Regions from separate parts of the Homo sapiens genome. Here region 2 is linked to region 1. Evidence: fine-mapped expression QTL. A gene starts in region 1. The other region holds a variant in brackets. All regions are shown on one strand. Distances are between the middles of the regions. Region 1 holds the start of PHLDB2 (pleckstrin homology like domain family B member 2). Region 2 holds the start of LOC107984087 (a long non-coding RNA gene).

Region 1 (15,779 bases):
CCTGGCCCCTGCTCTCAGTTGTCAGAATTCTCCCGTGTGCTGAAGTCTGTGTATATCTGACACATCAATTTGGACATCTATCCAAATTGGGTAGATGCCCAAGGTGGCATTCTCCCTCTCTCTCTCGCTCTCTCTCTCTCCATATATATGTAAAATATATATTATATATACAATTATGTTATATGTAAAGATCATATATAATACACATATATTATATATACATAAATTAATATTATACATAGGATTATATATTATAATAATCCTTATGTATAATTATCTTTATACATAATATAATTATCTTTATGTATAACATTAAGGACAAATTGAAATCAAGGTATGGTATAACTGGAGGGATGATGAAAGTCAGATGAAAGGAAAAACAAAGAAAACCAACAGAGAGAAGAGAAGCTGAGTTCTCTTCAGTATCGAGGAATACTGCTGTTAAGGTGTTGGTTTCTTTTTTCCATGATAAGCAGATAAGATACAGAGAAACTCCTTGTTTTAAGCCCACTACGCAGGCAAAGTAGACCAATTCAGGGTCCTCAAGTGATAAGAAAAGTGAGCCAGATAACACAGCTGGGATAGGTTAATCTAAAAGACACACACACACACACACACACACACACATACACACACACCATCCTTTTCCTGCCTGATTACAATACAGACTCACAGAAAAGATTGGGGGTAGGGCAGAAGGAGAACGTTTAATGCAGAAATTAATCAGATGTTCCAAATAGATTTACATTTTTCTCATAATTAGAGAACCTACCTTGTAATTGTTTAAAGATAAACCAGCACATGGGGATAATCATTAAACTTGAGGAGACAAAAATTAGGTGTTTCCCTTTTTATGCCCCTAGGAGGTTAAAAAGTTATTTTCACTTTAGTTTTGGTTAACATTCTGGTATTAATTTGATTAATATGTTATTTATACTTTATCTATTTAAATATATATTAGAGAATGTATAGTAAAAACCAAATATTCAATAAGGTTATTGGAATAAAAATACATCAACATTTTAAAAAGGAGAGGAAAGCAAAGTCTTTATTACCGTTACACAAAAATTTAATGGTAAGCTTGACTCTGGGCTTCCTGGCAACAAGGATACAAAGAGAAACAGTGGGTTACATAGTTTCCCTTAACAACAGTTGCAGATCCAATGTGAAAATAGATGAAGATGACTTTTCTAAGAAATGAAAGTACATTCATTTTTTAGAGAGACAATTTATCTAAGTACTAAAAAGAGTGTGTAAATTGGAACTGAACTTATATAGGACAGTCAGTGTATAACTCAATGGTCAACATCATTATCAATAGTTCCAGAAAGGCAAACGTGGTTGGAAACTACTCTGCTGGGTGTTCTTTTTGTGCTGTCTGTCCTCTGTGCAAGGAATGGTACCTACATTAACACACTGGCTCATAAAATGTGAGTTCAGCCAGGTGCGGTGGCTCACACCTGTAATCCCAGCACTTTGGAAGGCCGAGGTGGGTGGATCAACTGAGGTCAAGAGTTCAAGACCAGCCTGACCAACATGGTGAAATCCCATCTCTTCTAAAAATACAAAATTAGCTAGGCATGGTGGTGCATGCCTGTAATCCCAGCTACTCCAGAGGCTGAAGCAGGAGAATCGCTTAAACCCAGTAGGCAGAGGTTGTGAGCCAAGATCGTGCCATTGCACTCCAGCCTGAGCAACAAGAGCAAGACTCCATCTCCAAAAAAAAAAAAATAGTTCTTACTTTTCAGAATAGAAGTTTGCTTCTCAGTGAAGATAAATAATGCACTCAAATTACTTGGCTATTGTATTAGTCCGTTCTCACACTCCTATAAAGAAATACCTGAGACTGGGTAACTTATAAAGGAAAGAGGTTTAATTGACTCACAGTTTCACATTGCTGGGGAGGCCTCAGGAAGCTTACAATCATGGCAAAAGGCAAAGGAGAAGCAGACACTTTCTTCACAGGGCAGCAGGACAGAATGAATGCAAGAAGGGGAAATGCCAGACACTTACAAAACCATCAGATCTCATGAGAACTCACTATCATGAGAACAGCATGGGGGAAACTGCCCCCAAGATCCAATTACCTCCACCTGGTCCCACCCTTGACACTTGGGGATTATGAGAATTACAATTCCAGGTGAGATTTGGTTTGGGACACAGAGCCAAACCATATTAGCTAGCAAAGGGGCTGAATCAGGGCTTAAAACCCAGTTCTGCCTTACTTCACAGTCAATGATTTTTCCACTGCACTTTGCAAGTAGAAACTTCTTGATTCATTAAATCATCATAATATTAAAGCGAACTTCAGCACAAACAATTGTTCCATGAGTTAAACTGCAGTAAGATTGAAATGAGTTAATAGCTACAAAGATTTGTTAGGCTATCATTGCAGAGAAAGGAGCAAATATACAGATTCAGGACATAAAAAGTTAATCAAATCCAACCGATCTTTTCTAATAAAAGAGAACAATAGCAAAAATAATTACAAATGGAATAACATAAATAATTCATAATATCACTGTATGTGTTTCAAAGTGAGCAGGTATGTACAAACCTACTCCCAAAGACCACAGAAGCTGAAAAGCCAAAGAAAGAGGCTGACAAGTCCAGTTTCTCAGAAAGAAACATTTAATAGAGACTTATGAACAGAAGCCATGTCCCCAGTGGCTGTGAAAAAAGATGGTGCATCTCCACGCTGTCACTCCCAGAGTCAAGACACATAAACTAAAGGAAAAGAATGTGTAGGAGAATTGAAGTCGACCCCTTGGGGAGAGGCAAGAATGCTCTGTGAATCTGCCCATGGGCAGGATTTATGGTCAAGGTTGTTTTGACCCAGGGGCAGGATTTAAGGTATCAGTAGATAAAGTACAAATCTTAGAGTAATTCCCAGAACTCGGGTTAATCAGAAGTCAACAGGTAATCTTCCATGGAATTAGGGTAAAAAGAAAAAAAAAAGTCAGCATGGCAGATTAGCATCCAAGATAGAGTTGCTTTAGCCTCAACACTGTGCAACACTTTAAGGTTCCCCACCTGAGAGGGTGAAGGACACAGGAAAGTAAGATCAGGGACTGTAACCACTACAGATCCTGGAGAGGCAAACAAGAAAGGTCTGCTGTTTAGTTTACAACACAATATCTCTAGTGATAAGGAATGGCAGAGCGCAGGCAGGACTCTGGTCTGTGATTAAACAGAAAACTTTATTATAAAGAACCCAGGAAATAGAAAAGGTAGAAAGACTCTCTCTTTCTTCCTTCCTTCCTTCCTTTCTTTCTTTCTCTCTCTCCCCCTCCCGCGCTTCCCTCTTTTTCCTTCCTTCCTTCCTCCCTTCTTTGCTTCCTTCCTTCTTTTCTTTCCTTTCTTTCTTCTTTCTTTCCATCACCATTACTAAAAGAAAGTCTGGTAATATAATAATAACAATAACAGTTGCACTTTATTGAGTGCTTTCTATAGATGTTGAGGTCTGCATTTGTCTTTTTTTTTTTTTTTTTTTTTTTTGGCGACAAGGTCTCACTCTGCCACCCAGGCTGGAGTGCAATGGTGCGATCATGGATCACCCAGCCTCGAATTCTCAGGTGATTCTCCCACCTCAGCCTCCTGAGTAGCTGGGACTACAGATGGTGCACCACCATGCCCGGCTAATATTTTTGTATTTTTAGTAGAGACGGGTTTTGCCATGTTGGCCAGGCTGCTCTGGAACTTCTAATCTCAAGCAATCCTGCTACCTCGGCTCCCAAGGTGTTGGGATTACAGGCATGAGCCATTGAGCCTGGACTGAATTTATCTAATTTAAGACTTGCACCTTCAGGGTGGTCTCGTCTATCTTCAGGCTGCTATGGCCTTATGAAAGCTATTGAAAACCACTCTAACTCATCAGGAATGGGAAACTTTGCTGGGTTTAGTCACTTGAAAAAGTCACATTCAATGACTACTTTTTGAGTCCCTTCCATATATAAGTCTTGGAGTATGATTCATACAAATATGAATAAAATGACTCCCTTTGCCTTCTAGGAGCTTGGCTATCCTAAGAGATAGAGATGCTAGCAGATAAAACAAGGCAGTGAAGGGAGGCCAGTGAGGATTACTTTTTGTCTAGTAATTTGGAATTATTCATTATACAGAAATATCCCCTAGTAACATTCATACTTAGAAAAGAGGTAGAAGGTAGCATTAAAGACAATGAACTCAAGAACAAGTGCTCAAATTCTGCCTCTACCAACTTATTACCTGAGTGACAACTGACTTCTCTGTGATTCCTTTTTTACTTATAAAATGGGAGTAGTAACAAACAGTAACTCTCACCGCATCAACTAATATTGTCCTATATTTGGAAGAATACCGGATACGTATACAATAGTAATTATTGCTCTCAATAAATTTAGCTATTTTTTTCTTAGACATAAATATTGGCAATCTAATTATGGCCATTCTAAATGTGCTGTGTTGGTGCACATTCTCCTTAGACCTGAAGGGAGAAAGGTTGTCTCTAAGATGTCTGTGTAGTCAAGTGTATTTCTGGCATTGCTCGAGGCAAGGAAATGTTTGCAACACAGTGCTTTGGGTCAAAGCCATCATTTATTCTTGAGCACCATTTACATGTCCGGTATCCTTGTAGGCACACTAGGGATATAGCACTGGAGAGAACAGGCAAAACTCTCTGCCTGCCTGCCTTACATTCTAGTGAGGAGAGACAGACAATAAACATAATTTAAAAAGTACATTTTACAATATAGTAGAATGTGGTGACTTTGTCAAAAAGTAAATTTAAGTAGTATGGAAAACACATTTTAAACTTTTAAGTAGAGTGGTCAGAGCAGGCCTGAGCAACACGGTGACATTGAACAGGGTCTTGAAGGAAGTGAGGGAGTGAACCATGCAGATACTTGGGAGGAGGGAATTATAGGCAGAGAGGGCAATTAGAACAAAGGCCCTGAGATAGAACGGATTTACCTAGGAATCTAGTCTACGAGGCCACTGTGGCAGGGGCTAAGTGAGTGATAAAGGGGAAGTAGGAGGCTGGGCACAGTGGCTCACACCTGTCATCCCAACACTTAGGGTGGCGGAGGCAGACAGATCGCTTGAGCCCAGGAGTTCAAGAACAGTCTGGGCAATGTGGTGAAACCCCATCTCTGCAAAAAATTCAATATTAGCTGGGCATGGTGGTCTGCACCTGTGGTCCCAGCTATTCAGGAGGCTGAAGTGGGAGGATCACTTGAGCCCAGGAGGTTAAGGCTGCAGTGAGCTATGACTGTGCCATTGCACTCCAACCTGGGTGACAAAGTGAGGCCCTGTCTCAAAAAAAAAAAAAAGAAAAGAAAAGAAAAAAAAATTCCAAGGTAATGGAAATAAAATGATTGTATGTTTATGGGGATGATCCAAAAAAGAGGAGGAAAGAGATGACGTGGGTGAGAAAAGAACATTGCTGGAGCACTTAACTGTTTAACTGTTGGATTGATCAGTGTATGTATGCTTCTGCAGGGCAAAAACTCAGGACAGGGAAAAGAATTCCTCTAAAAAACCCGGCATTCCTAACAAACATATGAAAAAAAGCTCATCATCACTAGTCATTACAGAAATGCAAATCAAAACCACAACGAGATACCATCTCACGCCAGTTAGAATGGCAATCATTAAAAAGTCAGGAAATAACAGACGCTGCAGAGAATGTGGAGAAATGGGAACGCTTTTACACTGTTGGTGGGAGTATAAGTTAGTTCAACCATTGTGGAAGACAGTGTGGCGATTCCTCAGGGATCTAGAACTAGAAATACCATTTGACCCAGCAATCCCATTACTGGGTATATACCCAAAGAATTATAAATCATTCTACTATAAAGACACATACAAACGTATGTTTATTGCAGCACTGTTCACAATAACAAAGACTTGGAACCAACCCAAGTGCCCATCAATGATAGACTGGATGAAGAAAATGTGGCACATATACACCATGGAATACCATGCAGCCATAAAAAAGAATGAATTCATGTCCTTTGCAGGGACGTGGATGATGCTGGAAACCATCATTCTCAGCAAACTAACACAGGAACAGAAAACCAAACACTGCATGTTCTCATCATAAGTGGGAGTTGAACAATGAGAACATATGGACCCAGGGAGGGGAACATCACACCCTGAGGCCTGTTGGGGGGTGGGGGACAAGGGGAGGGAGAGCATTAGGACAAATAACTAATGCATGCGGAGCTTAAAACCTAGATGAAGGGTTGATGGGTGCTGCAAACCACCATGGCACATGTATACCTGTGTAACAAACCTGCACGTTCTGCACATGTATCCCAGAACTTAAAGTATAATTAAAAAAGAAATTTAAAAAAGACATTCCGTAGGTGAGGCTCTCCCTAAAAGTCAAACTTTTACTTGCACATATGAAAAGTGTAATCATTAAATAAGCTATTTCTTCAGTGACGGTATACTGAGTTCTGCTCATGGTGCCAAGTACTTTGCATATATTATTCAGAAGCTTATTAGCTGCCCTGCAGCACCAGTATCATTTATTGCTGCACTCCAGGTGAAGAAATTGTTGCTGGGAGCTACAACAACTTGCCCAAAGCCACAATGATCATAAGTAGTTTGCGCTTCGTTGTGCTCTTCTTTGCTGGTGTGAGATTCTCGAGGGCCAATGTCCTTCATCTGCGTAACTCTAGGGACTCGCCCAGACCTTGGAAGAGGTTCACATTCCCGCGTGCCGAGATTGATTATGGGCCACCCTCGGTCTCATTCGTTGACTTCCAATAAAGCATTGGCTGGTGGACCTCTACATCAGCATTGTTTTCATTGGATATAGCAACTCAGAAAAATATTGGGGAAAATATAAAAACTTTCAAGAGATATGATTGCAAGAAAATCAGAATGAGTTTAAAACCCTCCTGACCCCAGTCCTTAGCTCAGGCCGTTCTCCAAGGATTTTGCAAACCTGCTTTCTGACGCAGCTGGTAAACTTGCCCCGGGGCGAACTGTCGGAAGGAGGTGCGGTCACCTGGAGTTTCCCAATAGATACTTCGCTGTCTGGTGAGGAAATCATCACCCTAGGACGTAAACCCTCCCGCCCTTCTTTCAGCTCTTAAAAAAAGCCTGCCACGAAAGTCCCTACTGCGTTGCTGCGAACGTAGCTTTGAGAAGCTGGCGCCCAGTGATGGGGCAAACAGCCATGCCCTTCCAGCAGCCGTGAAAGCCCCAACAGCAAACTGCCTGGGAGCGGGGCAGGTCACCAACTTCGTTGCTCGAACTCCCTGGGTGCCCGCCGCGGTGGTTACAAAGGGGGTCAAGAGTGCCGGACCCAGCCGCGCGGAGCCCACCATTGCGGCCCGAGGGGGACCCGACGGGGGCCCGACGGTGTGGCGTGGCGCAAGGAGCGCGCCTGCCTTCTCTCGCCGCCGGGAACGGGCTGCACCAATGGCCAGGTGAGGAGGCGGCGGTGGTCGCCCGGGAGGAGGGGGTGGTGCCGACTCCGTGTGCCAGGAGTGCGTCCCGGGGACGCTGCCTCCCCCGCGGCCGAGTTGGTTGCCGCCGGTTGCGCTGCGGAGGGTTGGGGGCGGAGAGGAGGCAGTGGCTGCCCGGGCCGAGGAGGGGCGCGCTGACTGCTCACCGCGAGTCAGGAGGGGCCGGCGGGCTCACGGAGGGAGACAGGGTGGGCGGGGGCAAAGGCTAGGCGCTAGGGCGGCGGCGCCAGCGTAGAGCGGCGGTTTGGAGGAAAGATGAGACGGTGAGTGGGCTCCGGGGACACAGAGTTTCTTTGCTTCTTTACAGGCTGTAGGGACAAAAGCCCGGGCTGGGGTCGGCAGTGCCCAGGCTGCGCAGCTGGGTGGGTGGGGGTGGCGAACCCCGTTGTGCATGACTCTCGGGGGGCTGGGTAGATCTCCGGTTGAGGGGATCCCGGGGAGGGAGTGTCTGGTAGGGAAGATGCTTCCAGAGTGATTGTAGAAAACAGGCAGAATGTGGGGGAACTGGGGGCAACTTTTTCCAGCAACTCTGGAATGCACATGGAGAGAGGGATGGGGATCCTTGGGATAGCTCCCTGAGAAAGAGAAGGTCCGCTGCTGGATGGTGTAGGGCGCGGGATTCAGAGAAGACTCCCTCCCCGCAAATATTTGGCTAGCTGCGCTTCTAGTTCCACTTTCTTTCAAGAGTGAACCTACGAGCTTTAACCGCCAAAAGCGGCTGATTTCGATTTGGCCTTTGACCCCCCACTGAAAGTTTACAGTGTGGCCGTCTCGGCACCCCTAGAGATAGCAGCTGGAAGGCTTGGGGAGTATTTTAACCCTCTGTTTCTCCAGCTCCCTGCGCGGCGGAGGCGCAGCTGAATCGTTTGCTGGTTCGCTTAATAACTTAGCCCTAGCAGTCATCACTTATTAAAGCGCCGAGGACCTGGCTAACTCCCGCCACCACCAGGAAATTAAAAGGCTGACAGGCTGTCCCTCCCAGGGTTGGGGTTTCCTGTTTGAAAGAGCTTGAGAAGTCAAACTGCTTCGCGGTTCCTCACTTACCTTTCTTATGTAAAAGAGGGAGCGACGCCCGCAGCTTTTTCTCTCGGTAAACTACCCGTGGCTGGAAATCCTCCGGGCGCCTGGCCCTGCCCTCTTCCCTAGAAATCTTTATCCTGCAACTCTGAAGTAGCTCTAAAGAGCTCTAGAATGCACAACTAGTCATAGCCAGGCACAGCTGGGAGTGTAACTAGACGAGGCATAAAAATGTGGAGTCTTTTTAGTGTAAATATTTGTCAGCCACATTTCCCTTCGTAATATGAACGTGTAAGTTACAGATGTAGGTTTTCAAGTATTGGACGTGTAATTTTAAGCTTCCTAGTTTGGTTTAATTTGGGCGTTCGAGATATGTCTCTGGGATTCTAACGTTTGAATTCGGCTGGGAGAGATCTAAATGAGGTCCACAGTTTCAGAAGGTTAAACTTTTGCCCTGTGAACACTTGAATTCTTGGTTCCTGGTAGGTTAGCAACAGAACTGTCGGATTTGGGATAAATAAACCGTTAGAGTTGCCCACTATTTTAACAGAATGGCTATATCTCTCTTGCCGTTGCCTTCAATTGTGTAAATATTTGTTTGAATAAAGAGCGAAGGTTCTTTGAAAAGTAACAGTTCTGTCTATTCTTGGCTCCCCTTTCATATCCTCTGCTTAGTTATTTAAAAGGATTTTCTTTGCCTCTTACATTTAATGGGGAAATTTAAACATTACATGTACTTAAATTCTGTAAAGTTACCAAACCATTTATAACTGGCAAATTATTTAATGACAAGGAAGAGTTGAGTTTGTCGTCTTAGTTGGCTAATGTAGCCTTCATCTCTTGAGACCCAGAGGTTTGCAGATCTCAGCCTGTCAGAAGTGGAAAAATGAGATGTCTGGTTAAGAGTAGTCATCATTTCAGTCAATTTGCAGGCCTCAATCTGTTTTATGCAGCTGGCAGCTGCTGTTCTTTTGGTGTTGAGATCGTCTGCCACGAGTGTCGCCTGGATCCCTGTTTGAAAAGGGGAGGAAAAGATACTTGGGAAATTGGACTGAGAGCTTGCTTACTCCTCCGTTCAATAACTGTGACCAAGCTGAAACTCGTTAGCAACCTTTCCAGAAACGTTTTATTTACCATGTGTGTTTGTTGTGTATGCAAGAGAGGAAAAAATAAGCCAAAGTGATTAACCAATCTCTGGTTTTCCCTATTTTCTTCAAAGCTCCATTTTGAGATCTATAAGCAAGGGTTGACTCTCGAGTTCATTGGAGAAGTTACCTCGGCTCACTACAACTTCTGCCTCCTTGGTTCAAGCCATTTTCCTGCCTCAGCCTCCCGAGTAGCTGGGATTACAGGCGCCTGCCACCACACCTGGCTAATTTTTCTATTTTTAGTAGTGACAGGATTTTGCCATGTTGGTCAGGCTGGTCTCAAACTCTTAACCTCAGGTGATCCACCTGCCTTGGCCTCCCAAAGTACTGGGATTACAGGCATGAGCCACCACACCCGGTCTCCTTTTAAATATTTTTAAAGGAGTAGTTAACGTTATGGCTTTATATCCTGATTTTCAACCCTTAGCAGGGAGGCAGTGCTATGGTGCTGTGGATGGCTTAGAGTGACAGTGGCTTTGTACATTTTCTAGGTGGAGTACCTGTGCCTTATGAATCTATCTGTAAAGTCTTGGTGTACCAATTGTTGATTGTGTAAATGTCACTCTTTTGAAACAAAAACACCTAAGTGATGTGCTTTATCTTAAAGTCCTGACATACATTAGAGCTGTGGTTTTCACTGGGAGAGGGGTTTTGGCCCCCAGAGGATACTGGCAACGTATTTTTGGTTGTAGCAACTGACAGGAGGAGAGTGCTACTGCCATATAGTGGGTAGAGGCCTGGGATGCGGTTAAGCACCCTGCCATGCACGGGACACAAAAACAATTATGCAGCCCCAAACCCTGCACTACAGTATTGCCTGGGGGAGTAGGTTAACAAGATTAGGCATCTTAATCTGATTTGGATCCTCAAGAAACTTGTTTAACTGTGTTAAACAAGAGACCCTTATCATAGAAGCCGTTTTGTATGCAGCAGATTCTTTTGTCCTTGCCATTTAGAGTCTTAATATACCATAGAGGTCGAGGAACTTGTGTTCATTGACAACTTTGAGATGGATTAAAGTCATGGGATTTGGGAGCATTAGAGCACAAGGGAGCCTCAGAGATCACTTAATTTCTACCCCTTCTTTTTATAGATGTAAAAAACTGAGACACTCAGAGCTTTAGGACTCATAAGGTCTCAAGCGAGCTAAGGGCGGGCAGACAAAGTTCTAGGTACAACCCAGGAGTTAAAAATTTTAAAATAGAGATTCAGGCAAATGGGAACAAAAAACAAAACACACTGGACCTGACCTTGTGTAAAAGTTTCAAAGCACCATTCCCTGTGAGAAAATAAATAAATGCTTCGATGGGGGAGGGGTGGCATTAGCCATAGAGACTGTGGGGCACGTGCCTGGGTGCCCCAGTCCCAGAAAGGGGTAATTCCATTATATGACCTGTGACACTCCACTTCTGATGCCTGTACTGTCCTTTCCATGGCAAAGTAGGCAACAGATGGTTCCACAGACATAGCAGATGTTGCTTTTGAATCCAGGTACAAAACAGAACATTTGAGATTTTCTGTTCCTCCCTGCCTTATCGGTTAAGAGTAGAGTACATGAATGGATAGGGCTGGCTTGGACAGAAGGGAGAATTACAGAGGCCTCCTGAGTATGGAAGAAAAAAAGACACCTGGCATATATGGAAATGAGCAAGTGTTGGGGAAATTGTGGGAGAAATTCATAAGCTGATGAGGGGATATCTAATATAAATTCAATTGCATAGAACTAGGATTAAGAATCAGAAGACAATTCAAGCTTAGCTATTCTTTCAGCATGTAGAACAAAATAACTATGGGGGTAAAAGGAACCTTAGAAATCCTCTTATCTGAATCTTTTCCCTCCAACCAACTAACTGGGTTAGATAGCGGCAGAATCTGCAAGCCTCCTGTTCTATTGTACTTTCTCCTGCACCCACAGTCTCTACCATTCCATGTGTTTACCTAATGGGAAAGAAAATGATAGTAAAGAAAGTTATTGTTAATTACTTGGGAGAGTTTAAAAAGCATGGTATTTGTGAATGGCTGTTTATAGAAAGGAGTTACCTTAATGAGTTTATGATTATCAGAAAAGTTGTACACCATAGCCTGATTAATTACAAACATGTATACTCTCCTGTTTACATTGCTATGGTTAGCCATTAGGCTCATGATTATAGATTCTAGTTCTGGGTGCCAAGCTGTCCTCCTGTGGTAGTTATTTTATCTAATACTCAAATCTGACAGGTTCTGGCCATATAGGAAAGTTTTTAGTATGCCTTTGGTGGGAGACATAAAACCTCTGAAAAGTGTTAAGATAGTTTCTTATCATTTTGACAACTAGCCAAAGGGTGCACCTCAAAGCCAAGTACATAGTGATATATTTAGAAATGACTCAAGAGTGATAGCCCTTTTAAGGGATCTGCCCCCCCGCAGGTACTATGCAAAAGGGGTGTAGCAGTCTTTTCATTATCATCTTTCATCTGGCCATTCTTGTTACTGTTTTTCAGATGATGGGAGAGGAGACAGGAGTAGTTTTTAAAAAAATAACTGTTGGCTAGAAATATTTATTGGGATTTGATTAAAGTAACTTGTCTTTTAAAAATAAATGAAACCAAAATTGTTAGCTCAGATTTTCAAATCCCTTCAAAGTAAACATTTAGCAAGGCAGAACTTCTCTCTATGTTCATCCAGGAATTTGAACCTTCTGGGAGTTAATTTGCTTACAGTTGTTTTCATGACGCTTAAGGATGTTTCTTAGACATTGCAGAAAAGGAGCTTTGTGCTGTATCTGCTTTAAAGGCAAGATAGTTGTCTATAGCAGCTAGTGGTCAATAAGAGAAACCCAAGTGTAAAAATCATTTTACTGTTGTGTGGGAAACTAGAGGTTGTAGGTAATTGCTATACAAAGAAACAGATTAATAAGATATAGAGTAACAGGGTTAGTCAAAAAGTTTTTGAGAGGATTTTTACAGGAGATACTTGTTTAGTGTGTTAGGTTGATTTTATTAGATGAAGTGCTTTTCCTTACTTTACAAAGTAAAAGGAAAGAAAATATTGTGTATGCCACTGTTTATCGATGGCCTTAAGCCAGGTCAGCTTTTTCTGAGACTTGCTGCTAATTCAGTGGGAATTGGTGTTGATCATCTTAGAATGTTTTGTTTGCACATTGCATGTGACTGCCCTAGATGGCAGTATGTTCATGGAACTAGCCTATGAAATAGCAAAAAAGTTAAAGATTACAAGAGTTTTCCAAGATTTCTTTCTTGACCACCCTACTGCTAAAACAAGGAAAGATAAAGGCAAAAGAAACCCAGCTCCTACATTCTTTTGACCAGTGCAGACCCAGTGTGAATAGTGCCGCACAGCCAAGAGATATTCAGAGGGGATTGAGAAGTGATGTCTGGCTGCCTCACTGCTTACGTCATTGCAGAAGTAGCTTTTCAAAAACAGCTTAAGATTTATTAAGGAAACTGCAAGCCATGGGAATGCAGACAAAACCTTTCTTATACATCATGCTCAATCAAATACCCATATTATATTACATTACCATAACTCTGACCAGGCCTTTTTCCCACTATGTTATGCTAAAACAATTTACCATGCCTTTGGAATGTCATGGGCAACAGTCCGGTGAAATCTTTTCCCAATTAGGTAGCTGCCACCTTATCACTAAAACTATTTCTGTTCTGTGGTCATTTCCATTTCCTGCATTATGTAATGAGCACTCCTGTGTTATTTAACCAGTATCTGTGGGAGTCCAGAAAGTTGGAGCAGAAAGAACATGTAGTTCACTCTCACCATGTTGAGTATGGAGAAACTCCTGTTGAAACAAAATGAAGACAGGCGAATTGACGTGCTCCAGATCTTAGTTCTGTTAGCAGAACCAGAACTAAGATGGATCTTCTGACTTGCTTCCCTGGCAGCCTATCCAGTGTTCTTTCTACTAGATTGGCCACTGTAATAAAAATAACATCCTAACGTAACCATTTCCTTTATTAGATCTTTTGGCCAGAGTTATTAAAAAAAAAGCATTGATTAAAATTAAATTAAACTTAGTCAATTGTTTATCTTGACTTGTTCAAGTTATTTCCCTTCTTTCAAGCAGTAAGTGGTCAAAAGGTAGATAGCATGGAAGGGAAAAATTAAGTGTTTTATAATACTCATTCTGCACAATCAGCTGCTAAGTAATGAAGATATGATATTATCATAATTATTATTTTTACTTTACAATATTTTAGAAACCTACCCCACCCACTCATTTTTTTTTTTTTTTTTTTTTTTTGGAGACAGAGTTGCTCTGTCACCCAGGCTGGAGTACAGTGGTGCGATCCAGCTCACTGCAACCTCGGCCTCCCAGGTTCAAGTGATTATCCTGCCTCAGCCTCCCGAGTAGCTGGGATTACAGGCATGCACCACCACACCCAGCTAATTTCTGTACTTTAATAGTGATGGGGTTTCGCCATATTGGCCAGGGTGGTCTCAGACTCCTGACCTTTGGTGATCTGCCCACCTCAGCATCACAGAGTGCTGGAATTACAGGCATGAGCCACCGAGCCCGGCCTCATGTACTCAATTTGTGATGTAAAGCGAAATGCATTACAAACATGGAAGATGTGGTTGACCTGTGTTTGTTCCACCTCTTGTGAGCCTGTTTGTACCCTGACTATTCCCAGTTCATAAATCTTGGGTTAGGGAATGGGAATTCCAGCAAGTATTTAGGTCTGGGGAATGTTACTTTGGAAAAATTAAATATTACTCTTAAGGGAGTGTCTTTTGATCAGTAGTGTGGGATGGGGCAGGATGGCGGCAAGATCGGAGAGTTTCCCTCCCATACACTCTCCTCAGCTTCCAGTTAAAGTCCACGGAGGTGGTTTCAGGGTCAAGAGAGAGCATCTTTATCTACATATGATCCCCAGGTTGATAATTCTCTTGCTTGAAATTAGCTTTGAGATCAAAAGATCAGAGGGTGCTTTTCCCTGTAGCACTCCTGTGATTAAAGAAGAGTATCTGAAGTTAGTTATCCCATGATTCTGCACTTCACTGGGTGATTACGTAGTAAAGGAAGACCCTTCTAGCTTTACGGGGGACTTGATCAGGATCCTTGGTTAGGATTCTGTGAAGAACTTGACCTAAAGAGCTCCTCCACTCTCTTCCTTAACATAAGTTTCTAAGGGGTGTGTGTGTGTGTGTGTGTGTGTGTGTGTGTGTGTGTGTGTATTTTAACCTTTTAATTGAGGCTGGAATTCTTGATATGGAGGGTTTGACAGTTTTATGAAGAAATCATTATTTGGGCACGCAGTGGTGACACTTAGCTACCCCACATAACGTTATCTTGCAAATATCTTAAATGTGATGGCCTGCTTACTTGTTATCTTGAAAATGTATTTGCTTTCAAACTTCTCCCAGTTACTTAAAAATACATGTATCAGCTTTTAGGAACTTAATTCAGTATGATAAAGAGTTAGTATTTTATACTTAAAAAAAAAATCAGCTAGGAGCCAGTGATATGACCCCAACCTTCTTTGTAAAGTCAGCTACTATAATTTTTAAGGCAGTATACACATTTTATTGATGTTGACTTGCAGAATGCACGTAGCTTTTTTAAAAGATACTTTATCATGAAAAATATTAAACTACACAAAAATTTAAATGTATACTAAAATAATAATAAAATAATAAACAAAGATCAATGTACTTATCACCCAGCTTCAACAATTATTTATATATGCTAATCTTGTTTCATTTGTAAACCTCACTTTACCCTAAAACATGGATTGTTATAAAGCAGATTCCAAACATCATCATATTTCATTCGTAAATAATTTACAATGTAACTCTAAGAGTATTTTTAAGATATATCATCATCACACTTTTAAAAAACCACAGCATTATCATCTAGTTTCCAGTCTGAAATTCTCTGATTGTCTCATATGTCTTTTTTTAATTTTAATTTTTATTTTTTTGAGATAGGGTCTTGCTCTGTCACCCAGGCTGGAGTACAGTGGCACTATCTTGGCTTACTGCAGCCTTGGTTTCCTGGGTTCAACTGATCCTCTCACCTCAACCTTCCCAGTAGCTGGGACTGCAGGCTTGTGCCGCCATGCCTGGCTAATTTTTGTATATTTTGTAGAGATGGGGTCTCACCATGTTGCCCAAGCTGGTCTCGAATCCTGGGCTC
Region 2 (15,779 bases), 56 kb before region 1:
CTTCCCGGGATCAAGCGATTTTCCTGCCTCAGCCTCCCCAGCAGTTGGGATTATAGGTGTGTGCACCACCCCACCCATCTAATTTTTGTTTTGTTTGTTTATTTGTTTTGAGTCTCACTCTGTTGCCCAGGCTGGAGTGCAGTGGCGCGATCTCGGCTGACTGCAACCTCCGCCCTCTGAGTTCAAGCGACTCTCCTGCCTCAGCCTCCTGAGTAGCTGGGATTACAGGCGCCCGCCACCACGCCCGGGCTAATTTTGTGTATTTTTAGTAGAAACGAGGTTTCACCATGTCAGCCAGCCTGGTCTCGAACTCCTGACCTCAGGTGTCTGCCTGACTCGGCTTCCCAAAGTGCTGGGATTACAGGCATGAGCCACCACATCCAGCCAAGACCTGTTTTCTTTAGAGGGAGAGAGGAATAGAAAAACGCCTTTTCATTTTTACTAGATGTAGTGAAGACAAAGTAAATGAAACCTAAAAAGAAACAAACAAAATACCAGAAGTGTTAAGACACTGTCTTGTTGATTCTGCCCTCAAAATATGGCCAAAATCTCTCCACTTTTCTCCAGCTCCTTTGCTGTTACCTAGTTCAAGCTGCTATCATCCTGATGTTATCCCTTTCCTAATTCTGGTAATTCTCTATATCTCCTTAAACCAATCTCTGAATCCCCATTTGTTCGCTTCTAACAGATTCTCCACAGAATAGCCAGTAGGAGATTTTATTTTATTTTTTATTGTTTTTGAGACAGACTCTCACTCTGTTGTCCATGCTGAAGTGCAGTGGCATGATCTTGGCTCACTGCAACTTCTGCCTCCTGGATTCAAGCGATTTTTGTGCCTCAGTCACCTGAGTAGCTGGGATTACAGGCATGCATCTGGCTAATTTTTGGTATTTTTAGCTGAGACAGGGTCTTGCCATGTTAGCCAGGCAGTTCTAAAACTCCTGACCCGCCTTGACCCCGCAAAGGGCTGGGATTACAAGCATGAGCCACTGTGCCTGGCCCAAGAGGGAGATTTTAAAAACACAAATCAGATTGTGTAACATCCTCAAATAGTAAGATATACAATAATAAAATGTAAAATTCTTATCAAGATTTACAAGGCCTATAAGCCTTCTAGTGTTATTCCCTATTGCTCTTCTCTAGGTTATTGACATGACTGGTTTTGTTTGTTTTTAAACTTCCTCTAACCCTTTTCTAGCTCAGGATTAGTCTACCCTTTTACCTAAAATCTTCTTTTCCTGCCTACCTTCTGGTCATGCCTCATGTCTTAGCTAAATGTGATCTCCTCAAAGAAGGCTTTCATTGATTACATAATCTAAATGAGTGACCCTGCTTTAGTTTCTCATTATATTTACTGTCATTCTTAGCATTGCCACAATATGTCATTATCTATGTGTTGACGTGATTATTGACTCAATATCTGTTTCCCCCACTGACCACATATCACCAGTGCCTAATGAATAGCAGATGCTAAAGAAATTAACAAATGAAAAAGAAAGATGTGGAACTTTGAATGGTTTAAGTTCTATTTAGGCAGACACACACACACACATACACACACAGAGAGTAGTTATTGTGGGTTATAGACCATCTCACTTTCCTAATTCTTATCTCAGACACTGAATAACTAGAGGCCCAGCCATTGCCACAGAATTTTTCCTTCATATTCTTGTTGACTGCCTTACTTGAAAGCAATTCAATCCATGTGTAAGGATTCCGTAAGACAGTCTGTCATGAGACAAAGGCAAAAATCCCTTGGTTCTATTTTTGCTACCATCTGTGTCTTTTTAAACTCCTCCTATATGTGGAACTTTTTCATTGCTTTGTTTGACTTCTGTAAATCTGCTAAATATGTTTACAAGCAACTTTCACAACCCTTCTCCACCATCACTCCCACTTTGATGTCCTACCATTTTAGAACTGGATAGATATTTAAGATGCTCTTAACTTTGCAGAAAACAGAACAACCAAGCCTCAGAGAAATGAAGTGATTTGCCGAAAGCTACGCAATTGTGATTACTCAATTGTAGAGAAATAGGGTAGGGTGCAGTGGTTTGCGACTGTAATCACAGCCCTGTGGGAAGCCACTGTGGAAGGATCGCTTGAGCCCATGAGTTTGAGGCCAGCCTTGGCGATATAGTGAGACACCCATCTCTATAAAAACATAAGAACATTAGCTAAGTGTAATGGTGCATGCTAGTAGTCCCAGCTACCTGGGAGGCTGAGGTGGGAAGATCCTTTAAGCTCAGGAGGTTGAGGCTGCAGTGAGCCAAAATCATGCCACTGCACTCCATCCTGGGTGACACAGTGAGACCCTATCTCAAAAAATTAAAATTTGAAAAATTTGAAAAACAATTGTAGAGGAATAGAAAACAAGGTGAACTTCTAAGACCTTGGCCTTTATAATTTACTCCCAAATTTTCTATCTTAAAAAAAGAAGAAGAAAAAGAATCAGGGAACATTCTAAATCTGAGAGTGCTCTAATTTTTCAAAAGATGTTTAAAAAGTCAATTTTTACCATCATTCTAAAGAAAGCAAGGAAATAAGACCTAAAAATATTTAAAACTCAAATCATCTGTATAGGAGAATTTTGGTATGTTCTAGGCTTCCTTGTGTTTACTTTTCATACTGCTTTCTGTAATCAAGTAAGATTAAGTGAAAATTACCTGGGCCACAAAACTGCAATGAAATTATTAAAGCATTTATTTAAAATATTTTCAGTCAGGTGCAGTGTATCATACCTGTAATCCCAACACTTTGGGAGGCTGAGGCAGGAGGATCACTTGAGCCCAGGAGGCCAAGGCTGCAGTGAGCTATGATCATGCCACTGTCCTCAAGGCTGGGTGACAGGGCCGGAGCCTGTCTCTAATAAAAATAAAATAAAATAAAATAAAATAAAATGTTATTTTATCTTTAATCTGAACAATTCTAGGATCTGGCATCTTTGATGTTTCCAATACAATCAATTTCAAAATATATGCTGAATTTCTACTATGCAAAGGAGTGTTGTTTAGACCTCATATGAGGGCCAGGAAGGTGAGCTAACATGGAGACAGGCTGTATGAGTCCACTCTCATGCTGCTAATAAAGACATACCCAAGACTGGGTGATTTATGAAAGAAAGAGGTTTGATTGACTCACAGTTCAGCATGGCTAGGGAGGCCCTAGGAAACTTACAATCATGGCAGAAGGGGAAGCAAACACATCCTTCTTCACATGGTGGCAGCAAGGAGAAAAATAAGAGCCAAGTGAAGCAGGAAGCCCCTTATAAAACCATTGGACCTTGTGAGAACTCACTATCACAAGAATAGCATGGGGGAAACCACCCCCGTGATTCCATTACTTCCCACTGGGTCCCTCCCATGACACCTAGGGATTATGGGAACTAAAATTCAAGATGAGATTTGGGTGGGGACACAGCCAAATCATATCACAAGCATTAAGAAGCTGGTACTCTTATTATAATGGGAGAGGCCCACATAGCCAAAAAAATCACTCTGAAATCTATCATGGTGTCAGCACAATTTGAACACAGACTGCTGTAAATAAAAGAGGAATAGTAGTCTTTGAATTTAATACTAGAAAAAAGTATTAGAAAAGAAAATTAAATTCTACTTCAGTTCTTCACATTGGTGAGGTAGACAGCTTCAATTGGTCTTTAAAAATATAGACTGATTTTCTATAAATTATTTTTTTGAAAGCTAGAAATACTTTAGAAATATGTCATCCCAATCAGAAAAAAGAAATTCTAAAGGAAGGTGAGGGAGAAGAACAAACAAGTAAATGTGAAATTGTCTCAAAGACATCAGGTTGGGTACTGAATTAAGTTTTTCTTAAAATCAAATTATAAAGACTTCCAGCAATTTCACTGCTGGAAATTTATACTGTGAATATCTTCCTATGTGAAGATATCTATTGTGGTTTTCCATAATTTACAGAAACTGAAAACAATGTTATGTATTCATCAGAAAGGACTGCTTTATTTAACTGTGTTCAACACATGTCATAGAGTACTATGCACTCCTGAAAATGAATTAGGGAGATCTATAGATACCAATATGGGAGGAGGTCTAAAAAATATTACTAAGTAAAAGGCAAGGAAAATAACTATATAGAAATATAAATAGAATCCTATTTGTGCAATAACAAGAGTGTATAAATGTACTCCTCATAAAGCATTTCTAGGAGGATACTCGAGAAACTTTTTTTTTGAGACAGAGTCTTACTCTGTTACCCAGGCTTGAGTGTGGTGGCACAATCACGGCTCACTGCAGACTCAACCTCCCTGGGCTCAGGTAATCCTCCCACTTCAACCTTCTGAGTAGCTAGGACTACAGGCATGCACCACCATGCCCACCTAGTTTTTGCAATTTTCTGTAGAGATGGGGTTTTGCCATGTTTCCCCGGCTAGTGTTAAATTCGTGGGCTCAAGTTTCTGCCTGCCTCGGCTTCCCAAAGTGCTGGGATTACAGACGTGAGCCAACATGCCTGGCCAAGAAACTCTTATTGAGCATATCTTTGGAAAATGAGACTGGGAAATTACATGAAAAGAAATTTTTATTTTATACCCTCTGTGCCTTTTGATTATTTTAAAATTATGGAGAGGTATTACTTTTGTATTACTTTTTGTTTATTAAATTCCTATACTATTATGCATATATCATTTTAAAACTATAGTTCTTTTAAGTTAAGTTTACTTGGGCAAATGTCCTAATTTCTTTTCTCACTGTATATCTTTAGTTTCTATATTCCAGTGACTTTGTTGTGGACTATGTGTTTGCCTCAGATTTTCCCATCTCTAATAATGTCATGAACTGGCATTTCTGAACTTTCATTTTTACTATTGGACTCTTTAATCCTGCTTGTTTTAAGAAGCATTTTGCAAGTTACACGTTAACTAAGATGCAGTACCTGATTTAAAGGGGACATACAATGCAATGAGAGAGACAGAAACTATTTTTACTTCATAAAATCCAGTTTTATAAAAAGCTCTGTTAATAACACTGAGGGAGTGTGAGAACACAAAAGAAAGCTTACTAAATTTGGCTGGGGAAAGAATCAAGGAAGATTTCTAAGAAGTTATGCCAATTAAGATAAATCTTGAAAAGATGAATCAGCTGGTACAAGTATAATACATTGCCTTCATAGATCATTTTGCAAGACTTAGAATTAGTGAAATTTAGACATAGAAGAGACCTTAAATAATATTAAATGTAACATTCTCATTTTTAAAATAGAGAAATGTGACTTGTTAAACAACATGAGCTGTGGGGTCAAATTCAATGGCCAATACAGAGTAGACACTTAATAAATATTTGCTCCCTTCAGAACTGGCCACATAAATTACAGGGCCCAGTGGAAAATGAAATACAAGGCCCCTTGTTCAAAAGTTATTAAGAATTTCAAGACAGTCACAACAGAGTGTTAAAACAAGCATAGGCCCCTCTGAGCACAGGGCCACATTGAAATAACCCACAGTCCTGGGGTTCATGAAGCAGGCCTCCCTCCCTCCTCTAATCTAAGTTTCAAGGGGTAAGTAGACACAGAAACTAAACAAGAACTCAGGTCTCCTTTGGATACAAAGACCTCAAAATTTTAAAAGCTCATAAACAATCTGTTCACCCAATATTTTTAACTGAGGTGATATGAAGATCTCATATTTATCTTTATATAATAGTTAATAAATTTGTGCCTTTATTCATTCATGTCACAAATATGAATAAATGTGTCCCAAGAGCCTAGGACAAGGCTGGTTCATAATAAGTATTCAGTGAAGAGTAGGTGAAGGATGGATGACCAGATGAATGAGTGACTAAACAATAAGCTACAATTGAGTATTATTGCCCATAAAAAGAAATAAAATTTTGATACATGTAACACCATGAATGAACCTTGAAAATATTATGCTAAGTGAAAGGAGACAGACACAAGAGATCACATAACATATAATTACATTTATATGAAATGTGTGGAATAGTCAAGTCTATAGAGACAGAACATACATTAGTGGTTGCTGGGGACTGGGAGGAGGGAAGAGTAAGGAGTGACTGCTCATGGATATGGGTGTTTTGTTTTGTTTTGTTTTGTTTTGGAATGATGACAATGTTCTGGAATAAGATAGCAGTGATGGTTGCACAACTTTGTGAATGTAATCACAAATATCATCAAATTCTAGACTTTATAAAGGGTGGATATTATAGTATATGAATTCTATCTCAATTTTTAGAATGTAAAACAATAAATTAACCAGGATAGAAAGATTTAAGTAACTTGCTAAAAATTGATTTGTGTTACTTGTGATGATTATGCATCTAACATCAAAACTTTGGCTCCTAGTTCAGGCTTTCTCCAGTCTATCAAGCTACTGCACAGAAAACTGCAGAGTGCCACCAGCTATCTCTATGGCTCCATGGAGCACTGTGCTTACATACAAGAAACCTCTCTTGTACCAAAGTGTAAACACAGTGGTGGCTGCATTCTGCCTCCAGAGGATCTGGCCTACAGAGTGAAGAATAAAGGGGAGACAGAGCAAGGGGAGAGCACTTTCCAAGAGCTTCCTCATTTTCTCTGTGTTGTCCTAGACACCACCCACTAGCCTTGTATCTCAGG[T/C]CTTGGTTGAGAAACCAAAATAACTAATGACACTCCTATGATGCCTTGGCAGCATTCCCTGATAACTTAGAATATTTATTTCCTGTTTTCCCAACTCTCATTTATTTCCATGCTAGCATAGAGCAAGATGACGTGTAACCTCTTGTGAAATGCTTGATATTTGTCCCTTAGAAGAGACATTAGTACTATACATTTAGCAAATAGTAAAATAACAACACTCATAGCTTGTTCTTGTGAGTAATATGTGAAAGTTTTCTAAACTGTATTTTAGTTTTAACTTACATTCGTTACAGCAGAGTGAGGCAAGCATCATGCATTCTCTCTCTTTTAAAGAAAAAGCACTAAAACTTCCATTTTTTCACTTCTAGTTTATGATCCTCTCTTCTTCCTTACCATGAGAATCAATAAGGGTGGGTGGTGTGAACACATGTTTTTTGTCCTGTCAGGAAAAGTTAAAGGTTATGGTCCTGCTCCCAAATGATAGATAATTAATCATCTTTAAAATGGCAACCTGTCACTGGAAAAGGAAAAGCAGAAATATAAAATAAAGCAGATATATGATATCAGGTAGCAACAAGGATGTCACAGATTTAATGAGTATAGGGGATGTTGTACAAAAAGTTTTATACTAATCTCTAGAAACAAAAGAAAAAGCAGAAATGATCTATATGTTCATAGTCTATATGGCCATCTCTCTAATTTTGAAATCAGCAGTCATTCCTTGGTTGGCATCTGCTACTTGGGAGCAGAGGATGGAAGAACACAGCAAACAAAAGTTTCATCGTTAAGCTGTGAAGCAGAGGGAACAGGCAGCTAGCCAAAACTTATGTGGTTCTTCAAATTTCTGATGGGGATCAGAGTGCCTCTCCCTCACTGACAAATATGGAATGGAATGTAAGGTTGCTACTAACAGGGTTCTCTGCAATCCTGAGATTGGTTCTGTTCTAGCCAAAGCTCTTGGATTCCTGTAAACTCCAGTCCAGTTGAAACTTCCCGGGAGAATGTGCCCCCACCACCCCGTGCAGAACTCCTGGACATCTTAGTGACAGCCCCACCCCCACCACTAGTCTTCCCAGAATTCGAGCTGTGAGAACACATCAATTCCTGACTCAGGCATTTGAGTCAATTTTCAGTGAACTCAGGATAGTAGAATGGAACACCATCTCACCCACCAGCAATCCCTGGCTAGCACATGAGTGGGAGGAAATCATGGGCTTTGAAATCAAACAAACTCAGGTTCTTACATTCACTAATTACACTCAGAAACTGTGTATTCTTTGTAGAATTTGAAAGTGTTAACCTCATTGAGCGTTACTTCCCTCAGCTATAAAAAATGGATATAACAATTTTTTTCTCTGATGTTGCTTTAAAACAAAGTGAGATAAAGAATGAAAATTTCCAATTTACAAATATTTCTTAACAAAGCGTAGATTTGTTCCTTTCTATTCCAAAGCTAATGACTTCAGGTGAAATGGTATCTTGAGAGTGGGGGGCATTCTGAGGAATCAGTCTCAGACCAAATTCATGTAATCAGTTGAAAACGTCCTGTTTGATTAGTCCCTTTAAACTCTTTATGTGCCTTTCCTGTCCTCTAATTCAGTTTCTAAACTTTTGTTCAGTATCACATCCCTAAAGAAGCCTTTTTAGACATTTTTTCTGATCGTCCTCTCCTCCATGAGATTTAATGCCACAGAGACACCATTATGTTGTTTGTGAACTGTATATAGGTATATCTGTGCTTTATACATTAAAATAGTAAGAAAATGTTAAACCCCCCAAGAACCAATTTTCACCCTTTGGTGGACAATATTGTTCCTATTGAGAACACATGGTCTATAAACAAACAAAAAGTTAGAAGAATCTTTGAAGAGATAATCTTTTAAAGCCTGTGAAAGAAGACATTATTGAATTCTTCTGAAGAACAGAGTCTTCCCTTCATCATCTCTTAACTATTAGAGGTAGAAAACTTTGGCGAAGTTTTAACAATTTCTTGATTTCCTATGTTTAGCCAATGATGTTCAGGTCAACCTGTTAGAAATAAAGAAAGAAGCCTCAGATGCAAAAAAGTAAATGATGATGCTAGGCCCCAACCTACTGATGTATTGTTTTCTACGCAGAGTATAAGATATACTATCTGCAGCATAAGTACAGTAATAATGGAGCTAAACCTCAAAAAATTAGTCCCACATCACTTGACTAATAGGTTTCTACTTTACTCCATGTGGATGTCCAGATTTTGCCCAATTAAACTTTCATTTCTTATTTAAAATTACAGCTAATACTTACCATTGAAATTTTGGGGGGAAAACTTTGCTAAACTGCAGTGTTTATTTGACTTTTTAAATAACTGTGATGCTGAACAGTAAGAATTAATTTGCACACAGGGCTTCTAAAAAGTGGGCCACTTCTTATTTTGAGAAAAACTTCAAAATTATGTAATAAATTTCACTGAGAAATAAAATATTGACATAAATAACAATAGAACAATATCAAGTTTTTGGTAAAATAAAAAGTTATTCATGTGAAAAATAAAATAATAGAACAATACTAGGTGCTGGGGAGGATGTGGAGCAACCAGAAGTCTTATACACTGCTAGCAAGAATGTAGAATTTGAAAGTGTCAACCTCAGTCACTTTGGAGAACAGTTTGACAATTTCTTAACACGTTAAACATACGTGTGCCTTGTTACCCAACAAGTCTACTCCTAGATATAGGAATTTACCCAAGAGAGATGAAACATAAGTCCACAAAAGACTTGTACATAAATGTTTATAGCAGCTTTGTTCATTATAGCCAAGAACAAATTATGATATATCCATACAAGCTAATACTACTCAACAATAAAAAAAATTACTGGGGCCGGGCGCTGTGGCTCAAGCCTGTAATCCCAGCACTTTGGGAGGCTGAGGCGGGCAGATCACGAGGTCAGGAGCTCGAGACCATCCTGGCTAACATGGTGAAACCCCGTCTTTACTAAAAATACAAAAAAATTAGCTGGGCATGGTGGCGCATGCCTGTAGTCCCAGCTACTCGGGAGGCTGAGGCAGGAGAATGGCACGAACCTGGGAGGCGGAGCTTGCAGTGAGCCGAGATTGCGCCGCTGCACTCCAGCCTGGGCGACAGAGCAACACTCCGTCTCAAAAAAAAAGAAAAAAAATTACTGGATAAATGCAACAACATGGATGGGTCTCATAAACAGCAAGCTTAGTGAAAGAAGCCAGACACAAAAGTATACATACTGTCTGATTCCATTTTTATGGAATGCTAGTAAAGACAAATCTAATCTATAGTGACAGAAAGCAGGTCAGTGGTGCCTGGGGCCAGGGGTGGTGAGTGGGAGTGTTGACTGGGAAGGACACAGGGAAATTTTGGGATGATGGAAATGTTTATATCTTGATTGTGATGGTGGTTGCATAGATGTATGCAAAAAAAAAAAAAAGAAGAAGAAAAAAGAAAAGATACAAGAAGTCAAGAAAGAAGCCAGTCACAGAAGACTACATTTTGTATTATATAAAATTCCATTTATATGAAATTTCTAGAAAAGGCAAAACAATAGAGACAGAGAATTGGTCAAGAGTTATCAATTGGATACTTAAATGGGTACATAAAAAAACAGGTCAAAATGTTGTTAAAGATTCAACAATTCAAGTTATCTGCTGTGAAAATGCCATAAAGAGTTAGTATCTCTAGAATCATTATAGCAGTCATCTTCTAGTGCAAGTCCCAGTACCATTTTTAACAGCCTTATTGAGGAATAATTTGCATATCATAAAATTCTCCCATTGTAAGTGTACAATTATAGAATTTTTGATGACTATATATGATTATGCAACCAGCACCACAGTCCAGTTTAAAACATACCCATCACACCAGAAAGTTCCCTCACACCTGTGGCAGTCAATCCCCTCTCCCACCCCAGCCAACCACCGAACCAATTCTCTGTCTCTATAGTTTTGCCTTTTCTAGAAATTTCATATAAATGGAATTTTATATAATACAAAATGTAGTCTTCTGTGACTGGCTTCTTTCTTGCCTTCTTGAATCTTTTCTTTTTTTTTCTTCTTTTTTTTTTCTTTTTTTTGAGACGGAGTCTCACTCTGTCACCCAGGCTGGAGTGCAGTGGCTCAATCTTGGCTCACTGCAACCTCTGCTTCCCGGGTTCAAGCAATTCTCGTGCCTTCAGCCTCTCAAGTAACTGGGACTATAGGCACGAGCCAGCACACCTGGCTAATTTTTGTATTTTTAGTAGAGACAGGGTTTCACCACACTGGCCAGGCTGGTCTTGAACTCCTGACCTCAGGTGATCCGCCTGCCTCGGCCTCCCAGAGTGCTGGGATTACAGGCATGAGCCACTGCACCTAGCCCTTCTTTTTTTTTTTAATAACTTTTTTTTTGAAATGGGGTTTCACTGTGTTGTCCAGGCTGGTCTTGAACTTCTTCCTAGGCTCAAGCACCCTTCCTGCCTTGGCCTCCTAAAGTGCTGGGATTACAAGCATAAGCCACCATGCCCAGCCCCTTTTTGTTTTCTTAAGATGAAGAAGTTCTAGTTATGGGACTTGTAAGAGACATTAGTTGCAGGTCCAGAGCACACATTTGCCGATTCTCAGTCCAGGACTTAGCTGTGACACCATGCTATTGTCAGGATACAGTATACTAGATACAGGATACTAGAATAGGAAAAAAATAAACCTGGTTTAGGGGATCAGAATGGCTATTTCTAGCCATCCAACTCAACTTATCTGAGATTCAATTTTCCCTTATATACAATGAGGATAATAATGTCTAATGCATAGCTCTGTTGTGAGGAATAAATTAAGTGTACAGAGTACCAAACATAGAGACAGGCAAACATTAGGAATTTAATAAATGATAATTGCTGACTAGAAAATCACTTAAAGTACAAATGTTCATCTTGAGACAAAGAACATAAAGAGGGAAAGTCATAAATGTTGGAAACTGAAGATTAGGGTTTAAACATTGACTTATTTAAATCTCAAAAGAAGCATGAATCCCTGCCAGGCATAGTGGCACACACCTGTAATCCCAGCAACTCTGGGAAGCCAAGTTGGGAGGATTGCTTGGGGCCAGGAGTTTGCCCAGGAGGCCTGGGCCACATAGGAAGACCCCATCTCTACAAAAAAATAAAAATTTAAAAAAAATAGCCAGGCGCGTGATTTTTTTAATTTACACGCCTGTAGTCCTGTAGTCCCACTTGTAGTCCTGACTACTCAGGAAGCTGAGGCTGAAGGATTGCTCAAGCCTAGGAATTCAAGGCTGCAGTGAGCTATGATGGACCCACTGCACTACAGCCTGGGCGACAGAGTGAGACCCTGTCTCAAAAAAGGAGAAGAAGAAGGAGAAGGAGAAGAGAATAAGGAGAAGGAAGAGGAATAGGAAGAGGAGGAGAATGAATCTCACAGATTTAAGACAGTGCCAGCTAAATTGGGAATTATTTGCTAAATGTAGTTAACTGAACATTGCTTTATTTCTTTGATAAGAGGACCATTTTATAAATAAGCTGGGTGTTTTTTTTTTTTTTTTTTGCCTAATTTTATGAGTGACTCAATAGTTCTCAGGCCTGGCTGCACATTAGAGTCACCTGGGGAGTGTTAAAAATTACCAATGCCTGGGACCCAGCCCAGAAATTCTGATTTCATCGGTCTGGAAAGGGGCTGGGGCATTGGTGATTTTAAAGTTTCTCCTGGCAATATTAATGTAAAACCATTGTAAAGAACTCACAGCAGCATTAACAGTTTGATTCTCTGGGTCTTAGGGAATGTGTTCAAAATTGTGGGGTGAACTGTCTTTAGAGTATGCCACTCTGACATCTTAGAAAGAGACAAACCACAGAGACTAGCTGTACCCACCCAGATGTTCTATCCACAGATGATCTTTTCTTATTTTTCTACATGGTGTTGTATGTTTGTGCAATCAAACATAAGGGCTTTGCATGAATGACATTAGCTATGTCTGCTCGGAAAAAGGAGGTTGCCCTTCACCTCCACATCCTGTGCTGCCACTTTTCTTTTGAGTCCTCGGTCAGAGCTGGGTGTTTAAACATATATTCTGGGTTTTTTTTTTTTTCATCTTTTATTTTGGATTCAGAGGGTACACATGCAGGTTTGTTACATGGGTATACTGCGTGGTGCTGGGGTCTGGGACATGGATGATCCTGTCACTCAGGTAGTGCAGAAAGAGTAAACATGTATTCTTAAGCAATACATGTATATCTCATGAGTCACAGCTTCAAGAAGACAAATACAATCTGCATGGACTGGTGCTCTAATTAAAAACTCTAAAGACTCAGGAGGCCTGGATAAGTCTCCTGCCCTCTTTGGTCTTCAAATATTTAATTTGTACAATTAATGGATTTCCTTTTATAACCCTAAGGTATTTTCCAGTTACTATGATTCACTGGTTGTAATTCTCATAACTAATATAATAAAGAGCAAATTCTTTATATAGCATCCATTTAGAACTCTACTACTAGTACTAAACAATTCCTAAAATAAGGGTTTATATCTCTGTTAAAGTCATTAGTACATACACATAAATAATATCTTGGTCTTTGACTAGTATATTTATTTACCAAGAAATGCAATGGCTTAATCTATACTTTCCAGAAGGAACTGACTGCTGTCATCGAGGAGGAATAGTCACATAAATAAATTATTGTTCTTCACACATAGTACTCACAAAACCTTAGTTAATTGATTATTCAATTATGATATTGTGAAACTGTAACATGACATTAATCATTACCTGGTGAAATGATCATGGGCCTTTGTGTGATGCTGCGGCTTCCTGGGAAACTCACTAATGTATTCACATAAACCAGATGTGCCAGAAGAAAGCTCTTGCTGTGGAATTGATGGAGAGTTTGTTTAAAGAAAGGAAAACAACTCTAAATAGTAAAATAAATATTTTCTTCTGCCTTTGGGTGACCTTATGCTCAACCTCTTCCCTTATGAGAATGCTGTCTCCAAGCCTGTGGTTCTATGGCATGTCAGTAATCTGAAAAGTCTATCTGAAGTCCAGCAGTGGGCCACTGCCCAGCCTCACAAGCCTGATTTCCTCTTCTTTTCTCCACAAACACCCACATACTTATTAGCTCCCTCAGTTCTTAAAATGGATTCTTTTTATCTAATGCCAACTTATCACTGTATATCAGGTCTTTGACCCTGAAATATCTTTAGTAAGTTTGCTTTTCTTTGTTGCTAAGGCAAAGCCTGGCAGATTTACCTATCATCAAGAAGCTCTGATTTGTGGTGGTGCTAAGTTTGGAAGAAATATGAATCAATGAAATAACTTACCTGAAGTAAGAGTCACTTTAAATTAAGTTTATCAGCCCAGTCACTTGTAAAGGTTTGAAGACAATAGTCATGATGTAATAAAAGAGTATGCAAACTCAAGAGTTTAGATACACCTCAAGCATATAATAGAGTAACAAATTTCAGTTATGCAAGATGAAGACGTTCTAGAGTTCTGTTGTACAACCTATAGTTAGGAATTCTCCCTCCTCAGCCTCCCAAGTAGCTGGGACTACAGGCATGCATCACTGCACCCAGGTAATTTTTTAAAACTTTTTTGTGGAGATGAGCTCTCATTATGTTGTCCAGGCTGGTTTAAGAGCGTTAGTGCATCATGTTATGGTTAACAATCCTAAGGAAACACCAGTAGGGCATCACTCTAACACTGCCATGGAGCTATCTGAAAGAAGCTAGAGGCTATTAAGCCAAATGCAAGGTGACACACACAGAGGCCATACACACTAACCACAACCTGAGAGCACCTGAGATAGGAAATATGTGTTCCAGGAAGGGGCCTATCTGGGACCATATTACCGTGTGTTTTCATGTCCATTTCTGAAACTAGGCCTACTCTGCATGACTATCTTAATCTCCTCAGGCTGCCATAACAAATACTATAGACTGGGCGGCTTAAACAACAGAAGTTTATTTCTCACAATTCTGGAAGCTGGAAAGTTCAAGCTCAGGGTGCCAGCATGCTCAATTTCCGGTGGGAGCCCTCTTCCTGGCTTGCAGACAGCCCCCACTTTGTTGTGTGCTCACATGATCTTTCCTTGGTGCATGTATGTGAAGAGAGGGCTCTGTCTGTCGTCTCCTTTTAAGACCACTAATCCTATCAGATTAGGACCCCATTCTTATGACCTCATTTAACCTTAATTACCTCCTAAAAGTTCTCTTTAAATACAGTCATATTGAGGGTTAGGGCTTCAACATATAAATTTTCCAAGGACGCTATTCCGTCCATAGCAATGATATAGCAACCCACACAGACTATCCCTAAATGTAGAAATCAGTGTTACTCTTCAAAGCAACACATTTTTAAAAATATGTCTTCCAAATGCCTTATTTTTGACAACGGAATCCTTTGTCCAAAATAAATTTTACAAAGATCCTCAGTATATAATATAATAAATAAATACACTGGACAGTAAGTTTGGGAAATGTGTTTGATCTGTGTAGGGATGTACAGTTGTATCTGCACTAAACTAGCTCTGCAAGAGGATACAGAAGAGATTTCAAAGAGCTGTCATCCTAGGTAAATGGCCCAGATACATGCTCCATGAACCCCCTCAGGGAAACATCTTTGCTATTAAACAGGATAATCTGTAAGCAGAGCCAAAAAGGACTTTGGATGCAAGAAGAGACCAGGGGATGTCTCATCCTGAGTCATCAGGATATTTCTCAGGAGGATTTAAGTAACTGGTCTTACAGTTAAAGCCTCCTATAAAAATGTACTCCATTTAGCATTTAACTAATAAAACCAAGTACCTACAAAACTAGAAGCTTTATCCCATTAAGGAACCTTTCAGGACTTGGTGTTTGCATGAAACAGAAAGTAATCATTGCTATAGGAGAGTCCAAGTCTCTTCATGAAATCATTTTAAAAAATGTATTCTACTGTGGTCAGGAGAACTCTTGCATTATGCATATTTTGCTACCAATTAGTCTTGGTGAAGAAATGGCCCAGTTTTCTCACTGGCAAATTAAAGGGTAGATTAGGCCAGTGAGTGTCAAGCTTTAATGTACAAAAGAAATCGTTAGGCAGTTTATTTATTATTAATAATATGCAGGTTTTTAACCTGTAGGCCCCACAAAAATTTTGATTCACTTGCTCTGTGACAAGATTCAGGAATCTTAAT

The links. PIP is the estimated chance that this variant, and not a neighbour inherited with it, causes the effect.
Region 2: its variant is fine-mapped to the expression of PHLDB2 in spleen (GTEx, PIP 0.99).

What each region holds. Positions count from the first base shown.
Region 1 is chr3:111,852,156-111,867,934 of GRCh38, forward strand. It overlaps PHLDB2 (pleckstrin homology like domain family B member 2), which reads left to right and starts at 7,110. Exons shown (of 18, transcript NM_001134438.2): 1 at 7,110-7,421. It overlaps LOC105374040 (a long non-coding RNA gene), which reads right to left and starts at 8,661. Exons shown (of 4, transcript XR_924333.4): 1 at 8,505-8,661. RefSeq lists enhancers at 6,932-7,518, 7,519-8,103, 8,434-8,543 and a silencer at 7,568-7,627.
Region 2 is chr3:111,795,812-111,811,590 of GRCh38, forward strand. It overlaps LOC107984087 (a long non-coding RNA gene), which reads right to left and starts at 2,784. Exons shown (of 4, transcript XR_001740848.2): 1 at 2,742-2,784. It overlaps LOC105374040 (a long non-coding RNA gene), which reads right to left. Exons shown (of 4, transcript XR_924333.4): 3 at 13,373-13,470; 4 at 3,367-8,637. It also overlaps a transcript of PHLDB2 not described here. The variant T/C (reference allele first, on the strand shown) is at 6,610.